Homo sapiens: one gene and its partners. The protein of the gene in region 2 interacts with the protein of the main gene of each other region in a biochemical or structural test. Each region holds a gene or a part of one and is shown on either strand. Other genes may lie near its edges. The genes, in order: STAT5A, NMI and TRIP12.

The links.
Region 1: the proteins of NMI (region 2) and STAT5A form a complex in vitro, tested with the Homo sapiens proteins (one study listed by BioGRID).
Region 3: the proteins of NMI (region 2) and TRIP12 form a complex in vitro, tested with the Homo sapiens proteins (one study listed by BioGRID).

The regions. Positions count from the first base shown.
Region 1 is NC_000017.11:42,294,972-42,298,626, forward strand, and holds part of STAT5A (signal transducer and activator of transcription 5A), read left to right. Parts: intron 1-647; coding exon 648-822; intron 823-3,655. UniProt on the Homo sapiens protein: Carries out a dual function: signal transduction and activation of transcription. Mediates cellular responses to the cytokine KITLG/SCF and other growth factors. Mediates cellular responses to ERBB4.
Region 2 is NC_000002.12:151,283,169-151,286,823, reverse strand, and holds part of NMI (N-myc-interactor), read left to right. Parts: intron 1-2,533; exon of another isoform or gene 2,534-3,525; coding exon of another isoform or gene 3,526-3,655. UniProt on the Homo sapiens protein: Acts as a signaling pathway regulator involved in innate immune system response.
Region 3 is NC_000002.12:229,859,359-229,863,013, reverse strand, and holds part of TRIP12 (E3 ubiquitin-protein ligase TRIP12), read left to right. Parts: intron 1-2,482; coding exon 2,483-2,608; intron 2,609-3,439; coding exon 3,440-3,655. UniProt on the Homo sapiens protein: E3 ubiquitin-protein ligase involved in ubiquitin fusion degradation (UFD) pathway and regulation of DNA repair.

The DNA of each region.
Region 1 (3,655 bases), on a different chromosome or scaffold from region 2:
ACTGCAACATCCCCCTCCTGGGTTCAAGCGATTCTCCTGAATGTGCTGAAGGAATGGCTGGATCCAAGGGGAGCTTGTTGATGCCTCCCCTCTAACTTCATTTCGGGGTCTCCAGGATGCCTGTGAGAGTTTCGGCCTCTTCCCTCTTCCTTCAGTCACAAGGGGGTCTTAAGTGAGATGGTGTGTGTTCACACAGCCCTGTTCCTCCCTATGTCCCTAGGATCTACTGCAGTCCATGGTATTGAGTCAGCAAATAAATGTAGAGCGAGGGGTCATCATCATTAGTGGGAAAACCCAGGTGACACCTGGGACGTGTTGAGTTCTAGTCCCTGGGAGGAAATTAGATGGACCCTGTTTGGAATACTCTAGTGGAGGGCAGCTCTGACATAGATATTTGGACTTTGAAGGTGTTACTATCTGCCGTTATCTGCCAGGTCACCTGTTTCTCCTTTCTCTTTCCCTTTTCTATCCCAATTCTGGCAAATGACTCCTTCTGATGCAAATGATCCTTCCTTCTTGCCCTAGTTTCCCTTCTTACCCTAGTTTGGGGTTTGGGGTTTGGGGTCTGTAGTATTGGTGTTTCCTAATGCCTGTGGTCTTCTCCCATCCTCTCTTCCCCGAGTTATTTCCATTCCATCTGTCTCCAGTGCAGCTCTCCGGCTGGGATCCTGGTTGACGCCATGTCCCAGAAGCACCTTCAGATCAACCAGACATTTGAGGAGCTGCGACTGGTCACGCAGGACACAGAGAATGAGCTGAAGAAACTGCAGCAGACTCAGGAGTACTTCATCATCCAGTACCAGGAGAGCCTGAGGATCCAAGGTGAGGCGCGGTGGAGGCAGTGTGCATCCGGAGGGTGGGAGTGAGGAACATTCTATGGACTCCTAGAGGGTAGAGCTGGGTCAGTGTCCATCTCCTCAGCACTTTGCCCAAAGCCTGGTAGAAGCAATGGCTCCCGGTGATTGAGCCCCTGCCGTGGGTCACACTTGGCACACATTATTTAATTCAACCCTCTCAACAAGCCTATGAAGTGAACAGTTGTGTTATCCCCCCTTTTGCAGATGGTAAAAGTGAGGTTCAAAGAGAACAAGTAACTTGGCCTAGGTTGCCTGTAAATTACAGAACTGGATCTCAACTAGAGATATATCATAAAACTCCTGTACTTTATTAACCAGTATTCTCTCCTTAATGGTATGTATTCTGTAAATATCGACACAAATAGGTAAATATGAACAGTGCTCCCTAACCAGAGGGAGGACTTGGATTGGAAGTCTTCTGGTTGAACCAGGCTGGGAGAGGTGGAACTTCCAAAGTGGGCCTTCTTGAGCCTCACGGATAGGATGTGGGCCTGGGGGAAGGGGTGACAGTAGAAAATTCTCCTGTATCCTAGGTCTGTAGTTCGCCAATGGCTCCCATGATAAAGATGTGGGGAAATTAAAAAATCAAATTAGCTTGAAAGGAACTATCCCCAGGTACAATTTGAGGAGTCATGGGACATGGCCCATCTATTAATATGTCCCATTCCAGACTGACCCCAGAAATGTAACACCTCATCTTAGTGAGAACAAGGGGTGTCAAACTGCTTTTTCCTTTACTCTTTTTAATCTGATTTCTTAAGGTAGACCTTAGGTCATTGATTTTAGACCTTTCTTCTTTTCTTTTCTTTCTTTTTCTTTTCTTTTTTTTGAGACAATCTTGCTCTGTCGCCCAGGCTGGAGCACAGTGGCATGATTTCGGCTCACTGCAGCCTCTGCTTCCCAGCTTCAAGAAATTCTTGTGCCTCAGTCTCCCGCATAGCTGGGACTACAGGTGCAGGCCACCACGCCCAGCTGATTTTTTTAGAATTCTATTGTAGCTATTTAAGCTCTCTTCCTAACCCTGCACTGTCAGTGCTTTGTGTACACTGAGACCAGCACAATGCCTGAATATTGCAGCTATTATGTAAATACTTGCAGGATAATTCTAAATGTTTGTTTGTTTGTTTGTTTATTTATTATTGCCCAGGCTGGAGTGCAGTGGCACGATCTCATCTCACTGCGACCTCTGCCTCTCAGGTTCAAACTATTCTCATGCCTCAGCCTCCTCAGTAGCTGGGACTACAGACATGCACCACCATGCCTGGCTAATTTTTTTTTTTTGTAGTTTTAGTAGATACAGGGTTGTGCCGTGTTGTCCAGGCTGGTTGCAACCTCTAGCCTCGAGTGATCTGCCTGCCTCGGCCTCCCAAAGTGCTAGGATTATAGGCGTGAGCCACGGTGCCCAGCCAATACTGACAGGATAATTCTAAGAGAATTTCCCCTCATCTGAATCTATCCCAGACTGGCCCTAGAAGAAGGGCAGCTCCTTCTGAGAATGGAAACGGAAGATTTTGGGCGGTTATTCCTACCCAAGTCCTTAGACTGTCGACAGTATTTCTGATCCCGTGCCTGGCTTTTCTGTTTCCTGTGCATGGTGGCGGATTAGGTTTGGATTCAGGTTGGGTTTGGATCTATCATGCAGTGTCTTCTCAGTCCCATTTGTCAAGTTCACTCAGCAGAAACACAGACTATTGATCTGCTTTTGCCAGGGAAGGCTCAGCTGCCTCCAGTGGAGTAGGGAAATTGCTTCCCGTCTCCCTGGCCTCCTTCCTAAAAGCTTCTGCAAATTTCCAGGAGAGCCCTAAGTGGGTCCCTTGCATAGGAAGGCTGGGCCCAGGTGTTGGGATCACCACCACCCTCCCTGTGGCTGGGCAGGATACCCGAGGTAGCCGTGCAGACACCTCGGATCTGTCCGTGCCTGGATGATCCTCTTCCTGCTCGATACCTGCAGTGAGATTGGAGCCATATTTCTGAGTTCTAGCTCTGGGCTGTTCCTGGCTACATAGAGTTGCTTTTGTCTGTCCCAGCTTGTGCATCCCATGGGTCAGGGCTGGGGTCAGAGTGACGTGGCCCTCAGGGGCCAGCCAGGAGCTCGACCAAGACATGCTGGTGCGCGCATCTTCTGACTCAGCTCAAGCAAGGACGCTGGGCTGTTGAGAAGGTGATGGGAAGGGATTAATAGTCCCAGTGTGGTGGAGACGGGCTGTCGCTGGGAGGGTGGGGTGGGCCTGCGGTGGTGGTTGTAACTGTGGACATGTTTACTTTCTTAGCCTGGGTTATTGATACACAGGCGCCCTTGTGTTCCACATCCCCTGTGTCTTACGTATTTCATAATGGATACTTTTTTTTTTTTGAGATGGAGTCTTGCTCTGTTGCCTTGGCTGGAGTGCAGTGGTGCTCTCGGCTCACTGCAACCTTTAACCCCGGGTTCAAGCAATTCTCCTGCCTCAGCCTCCTAAGTAGCTGGGATTACAGGCATGCGCCACCATGCCCAGCTAATTTTTGTATTTTTAGTAGAGACAGGGTCTTGCCATGTTGGCCAGGCTGGTCTCGAACTCTTGACCTCAAGTGATCTGCCTGTCTCAGCCTCCCAAAGTGCTGGGATTACAGGCGTAAGCCACCGAGCCTGGCACATGATGGATACTTTTTTTTTTTTTTTTTTAGACAGAGTCTAGCTCTGTCGCCCAGGCTGGAGTGCAGTGGCCCAATCTCGGCTCACTGCAAGCTCCACCTTCTGGGTTCACGCCATTCTCCTGCCTCAGCCTCCCTAGTAGCTGGAACTACAGGCACCCGCCACC
Region 2 (3,655 bases):
TGTGGAAGTGTGGATGATTATAGGGGGTTAGTAAATGATTTTTAAAGGAATTCAAGGGACTCGAAGAACATACAATGGCCTTGGACAAAGCCTGTTGGGCTTGCAGAACAGACAGTGGTTGTAACCCAGGTTTGTTGACAGACTTCAGTCTTCTTTCTGTGATATGAATTCAGAATTAAAAACTCAGGGAAGGGACTAGAGGTAATTGTTCTGTTTTCTGGCAGGTCCCACATTTAGGCAGATAGGAGAACATCAGTGCACCTTCATCCTGTGCTTTGGGAGAGACAGAGGAGGAGGAGGGGGAGGTCAGAGAGACCTTGAGCCATCTTCAGTTCACCATGTCAAAATGCCATACTTCCGGGTATCAGTTTCTGAGCCCCAGTGATAGCAAAAGGATCCAGTTGAGGATCATGCTTTCTACTTAGTTGTGAGGTCTCTTTAGTCTCCTTCAGTATGGACATTTCTTAGTCTTTCCTTGGCCTTCTGAACTTGAAACTTTTGAAGAGAACAGGGCAGTTGTATTGTAGAACCCCTCAATTTGAGTTTGTCTGATGTTTCCTCATGCTTAGATTCAGATTATGCATCTTTGGCAGGACTGTCGTCGAAGTTACATTGTGTTCTCAGTGCACCTTGTAATATGTTACATTATTTTGATTTATTCCATTATTTACTTTGATTATCTCATTATGTTGATGTCTGCCAGACTTCTCCAGTATAAAGTTACTCTTTTCTTCTTTGAAATTAATAAACATTTTGTGGGGAACTATTTTGAAGCTAACTAAAAATTCCTTTCTTCATCAAAATTTCTAATTTATCTGGACTCAGTTTTTTACTTTAATCAACAGATTTAATCATTACTACCATTATGTATTTTAATCTTTAATTTATCCCCAGATTTGGCCACCGAAAACCATCTCAAGGTGGATTCTGTGTCGTTTCAACATGTCATCATCATTCTTTAAGCATTTCCTTGCTTTTTGGCATCATAAGATGTCCCAGGCTCATCTTGCAGTTTTTCTATCCTGGTTTTGGGATCAACCATTTCTCTAAAGAGTCCTGGTTCCTTTTGGTGGAGAATAGTATTAGAAACCAAAGTCTGGGTGCTGAGTGTGCTCATTGCTCATTGTGGTTGTATCTGCTCTCCCAGGCCTTCTCAGCAGACAGAGCTAGGGTATATATGTATTTGTATATACACAAGATACACACATAGGCATTGCTTTTTTTTTTTTTTTTTCTGAGATGGAGTCTCACTCTGTCGCTCAGGCTGGAGTGCTGTGACGCAGTCTTGACTCACTGCAACCTCTGCCTCCCGGCTTCAAGCGATTCTCCTGCCTCAGCCTCCCGAGTAGCTAGGATTACAGGTGCATGCCACCATGCCTGGGTAATCACACATAGGTATTTCTATCTGTCTGTCTATTTATCTATCTATCTATCTATCTATCTATCTATCTATCTATCTATCTATCTCAATCATCAATCAGAAACCACAGCTGCAGGATTACATTGAAATCTAGTTCCAATCAACAGTATTTATTCTTGTTTTCTCCATTTCCATATTTATAATTATCTTCTCTGACGGTGAAAAACTTGGCTCCTATTATCCTCCATATATTTACTTACTTGATCAATTCTGTGTATGTACTTTTGGCCACTGGAGCCCTTTCAGTTGGGTCCCCATGTCCCTTTCACATACTCCCATCATATTGTATGTGTTTGTGCATGTGTTTTAGTGCTTTTTACTTTTCTGGCACTACAAGATATTCCAGGCTTATTTTGTATATTTTATACCCCAGACCTAGAATCAGCCATTGCTCCAATGAGCCCTGGTTTCTTTTATTGAAGAATATTATTAGAAACCAAGATCTGGGTGTTATGCGACTCTCCTCTTTTTTTGACACTCCTGTGTTCATTAAACTAAGACATAGCTAAGTTTTTGCTAGTCTTCTATTTTATTTTTAAGGAGGAATAGATGTCTTTTATTTCTTTTTCAAGAATATTGAGAATTTAGCCACTTGAAATCTTGGAAAATTATATGGCAGACTGTTTATTAATGTGTATCTAAAAACATAGAATCATGATATCCTTTGTCCCATTTTTGATCTGAGAGTTTTTCATCTCAGTAAATTCATATGTAGGCAAGAGTTCTTAAATTTTGTGTACCATGGATTCCTTTGCCAGCTTGGCAAATCCTATGGGCCTTTCTCCAAAAAAAAAACATTTAGTCAATGCCTGTGGGGACAGGCATGGTGGCTTATCCCAGCACTTTGGGAGTCCAAGGGGGGCGGATTGTTTGAGCCCAGGAGTTCGAGACAGTCTAGGCAACTTGGCGAAAACACATCTCTACAAAAAATACAAAAATTAGCTGGGCATGGTGGCACATACCTGTAGTCCCAACTACTTGGGGGGCTGAGGTGGGAGGATCACTTGAGTCAGGGATGTTGAGGCTGCAGTGAGCCGTGTTCATGCCCCACTGCACTCCAGCCTGGGCAACAAAGTGAGACCCTATCTAAAAAAAAAATTAAATGCATAAAATAAAATACATAGAATTACAAAGTAAATCAATTGTATTGAAATATGACTGGGATTATAGGCACCTGGCACCACGCCCAGCTAATTTTTTTTGTATTTTTAGTAGAGACGGGGTTTCACCATGTTGGCCAGGCTGGTCTCAAACTCTTAACCTTGTGATCCACCCGCCTTGGCCTCCCAAAGTGCTGGGATTACAGACATGAGCCACCGCGCCCGGCCAGAAATCAATTGTATTGAAATATGGTTATCAGAATATTTAAAAAGCAAATGTTTGATATAGTGATATATATCAATGTATTACAATATATTACAAGACCTAGTGGTGAGGTTAGTAACTAATGTAGAAGCAATGTTAAACACAAACTATTTTAGCATATCTGCAACAATATTCTATGAAACTATCTGTGCTTTCTATTGGTGACTATCACAGGTGCTGTGAATACTACTGTAGTTTGTTACCATATTCATAATTGAAGAGAATGCTAAGCTTCAATTAGAGGTTATTAGAAATAAACATATAATTTCTTCCCAATCCATGTTTATGGACCCAGCAGGAGAGTTAGTGAAAGCTTCAGGTAAGAACACCTGCGTAGAGAAAGCATATGTTGGAGGCCTCTTGACTTTGTTTACATTTGGGGAGAACAATAGGGAGAATTAAATATTTTAATCAAAAACTTTGAAAAACGTTGGAAAACCAAAATAGTATTCATTTAAAATGGAGCATGATATTATGGTTGGAATGTGAACTACAAAGGAACATTAATGTTCATTACTTTCTATATATTATTTTGTTGAAAAGCAAAGGATTTTTAGAATCTTTTTATATATTATAGGTGTGAAAGTTATTTGAAATATTGGCCAGGTGCTGTGGCTCACGCCTGTAATCCCAGCACTTTGGGAGGCCGAGGGGGGTGCATCACTTGACAAGAGTTCAAGACCAGCCTGACCGACATGGTGAAACCCCATCTCTACTAAAAATACAAAAATTAGCCGGGCATGGTGGCAGGTACCTGTAATCCCAACTACTTGGGAGGCTTGAGACAGGGGAATCACTTGAACCTGGGAGGCAGAGGTTGCAGTGAGCCAAGATCGCACCATTGCCCTCCAGCCTGGGCGACAGAGAGAG
Region 3 (3,655 bases), about 79 Mb from region 2:
TCATGACACATCCGCCTCTGTCTCCCAAAGTGCTGGGATTACAGGCATGAGCCACCGTGCCCTGCTGGGCATTGCTGAATTTAAGCCAGTTTTGTGAGCCTTGGTTTTCTAAATGATTTGAATACTGTTTACTTTTTGTGGTATAATATAGAGAGTTTACATGCTAAGTTCTTAAGTTCATTGAAGGTATTAGTAAGGGCATGAGAAATAACACAGGAGTAGAATTAGGTGGATCTAACATAAGCTATATAAAAGTCAACAGAACAATTTATTTGAGTTAAAAAGAGGAGGGCTGCTGCCCCAGACCTCACCTTTAGTTTCATATGGGCCGGTTTCTGATGACAAATGGAATGAATCATAATTTTTAATTGTTTTGGGCATTTATTTTTCACAAAGTTGTCTAGCTTTGAATGTATGTAGTTTTCTTTCAGAATGAGTTGTTTAATTATCAAGGAATGCAACAAGCTATATTTTAAATTTTAAAATGAAATAAAGTAGAAAACGTGATTTAATTAAAACATCAGTCTGCAACGATCTTTAAGAAAATAAGAATGTAGAGGACCTGAATGACATAATTTATATTTCCTGTAGCTGTTAAATTCCACACCCCAAAAACAGAACGTTACACCTCTTTTTTAGAATAACTATGGAATGATTTGAAAAATAGTCTCATTTCTGAAGAAAAAAGAGTTGAACTCTGAGATCTGTTAGTAGAAATATAACAAAAACAAAAGCAACTCTTAGAAATTAAATCTCTAATAAACTCATTGGTTAAAGCAAAATTTTAGTCTGCAATGGGAGAATATCTAGGAAAAATTAAAATTAAATCACAATATATACAAGGCAGGAAAATCACATGATCCTGGGAGGCGGAGGTTGCAGTGAGCCGAGATAGTGTCGCTGCACTCCAGCCTGGGCGATAGAGCAAAACCCTGTCTGAAACACCAAAAAATAAAAAATAACAACAACAACAACAAAAACACAATGTATAAAAAATCTTACAAAGTTCAGCTTAGCTACAACTTTAGAAAATATGCTTCTTGAAGTATATGTGTCCTTTCATTACTAAAAGTGAAGACTAATAACACTTGAAAGGCTCACCTAGAGTTTTGTTTTTTTGTTATTTTTTTTTAAGAAATTCATCTATTCTAATAAGTCTTTAGAACATATTATTACTTTCAGATTAGAACCTTAAAAACAAAAATGATATGAGGGATCCAGGAACTATTTCCTTTCTTAAGAAGCTAATTTCTTACCTTCTTTTAAGACTCTTTTCATGAATTCTGGAAAGATGGAAGAAGAAGTGATACAGAAAAGAGAAACCTTAGGTCCTCTTTTGGAACAGATGGTTGTACTTGTATGATATCTTAAGAAATTTATGGCATCCTTACAGATTGAGTTAGAATTATTTTGTGAGATTTTCAGTGACTCATTTCTAAGTTCTTTTGAGATGGTGTTTGGAATAAAAGCCTTAAACTTTTTTTTAACAAGTAAATTTGGTATTAATGAAACTTTTTTCTAGATTTTCATTGGTATATGCTCTTATGTGGAAAGTGGATATCAGCTATGAATTACATAAATTGCATTTGTTACATTAATATCTCACCCGAATGGCAGCAGTTTTCTGGATATCAACATGTGTTTGTTTTTTATTGCTTATGTAAATCTCATGTAACCATTCCCCAAGGTCTAAAAAATAATCTAACTGAAAACAGTTTTTTCATGTTCCTCAAACTTGCTTTTAGAATAGTGCTGGCATAAGGATTTGATTTATTGTAAATATGATGCACCATATCAATCATGGAATTATTTGAATGTTTTTTGGAACTTTTGTGGTAAATTCCATATTTCTCCAGGACTTTTTTGTGTTCTTTCTGTTGACAAGTACTTTAAAGTTTTAGCAAGTATCACTATGTTGATTTCATGTAGGTTTATTTATTGTTTAGTGCTTGAAATGATTTTCTGTGTAAAATCAGTTTGAGAATTGGTTCGTCTGTCTCTGCATTTGCTGTGTTTACCTGAATTTTAAGTACAAATTGGAAATCGGTATCAGTGTGGGAATCATCAATTGTCTTTTCCGTAAACTTTTAAAGCCATTACAGTCACATTATGTATTAAAAGTGTGTTTAGATCTAAAGTCTAAATTTGCTTTTTGTTAAAATGTAGCATATTTGAATATCTGCACTAAAATTGCTGAAAAATGTGTTACTGCTTAAGCAACCTTAACAACGCTGTGCAATTATGACTACTGGTGATAATAAACTCTTCGGTATTGCGGGGCGGGGGTGGTTCTGAGAGGCAATTTCTTTTTGCCAGATTATTTAGTAGAATAATAATTAAAATTTATAAATATTTGGAAAAAGGGTAGGGTCAACAATGAATTGTGGGAAGCTTTAAGAAATATATAAAAATATTTCATTTTCAGTATTGTATTTGCATCTCAGTTTCCTGATAGATTTCTGTTTTGATTTTCTGCTGACAGGTCACATTTAGGGCAGGCAAAACATAAGGGATATAGCCCTCCTGAGAGTAGAAAATCTAATTCTAAGGCACCCAAAGTGCAGTCTAATACTACTTCTGAACTGTCAAGGGGACACCTTTCTAAAAGGTAAATCTTCATGTTGCTTATACATTTTCAAGGCAGAATTATTTGCATTCAAATCATTGCATAATGTTAAAACTTGAGGTTATTCCAAAACGTTTTGATACATATTTTCATTATTCTCTAAGTAACTTTTAGGATTGACAGTTTATCACCTTTGCAGTGATTAGTGCAGTATACCCTAGACAGTGAGTTTGTCAATGATAAAATGATATTTTTGTTTGGAGAGCCGTAAGATTCCCCCTTTGCTTAACAAACCATTATGGCCATTTTTTATTTCTTTTTATTTTTTAATCTTTTTTTTAGTTTTTATTGTCAGAGCCATAGTTTAGGTTTAAGTCAGTGATTCTTAAGATTTAATTGTTAAGAGACTTTGGAAAGCAATGTTAACTTTGAAGATTTGATAGTACTACAATATAAAAATCTCTAACCTTCATTTTGAAAGTGCGTATGTTAATGCTTATTTCTTCTAAGCTTTGACAAAGCAGTTGTGCTTGTGAATAGGGCATCAATATTCTGGCTTCCTCTGGTTCCGAACAATTAAGTGTTGTTTTTCTTGTAATCTTAATTCTTGTTTTGTGATTACGAGTGTTAGTGTCAGTAATCTTTGGGCTAAAGAACACCCTTATCTTTTAATCAGATATTTTAGTATCCAAAGTCACATCTGCTTTTGTTTTGTTCTTTTATTTCGTTTTACAGATTTGAACCTTCTGAAAACCTATGTTTAATACTGGACTTAGTAGGAACATATTCATACTTTATTTTTTGAAAGCATTATATATGACAGTTGTAATTATGACAGGCTGATATTAACTGTTTTCTTATCTAACCTCTTAGAAGCTGCAGTTCATCATCTGCTGTGATAGTTCCACAACCAGAGGATCCAGACAGAGCCAATACTTCAGAAAGACAAAAAACGGGGCAGGTGCCTAAGAAAGACAATTCTCGAGGAGTGAAGCGCAGTGCTAGTCCAGACTACAACAGGACCAATTCTCCTAGCTCTGCAAAAAAACCAAAAGCACTTCAGCATACTGAATCTCCCTCAGAAACAAA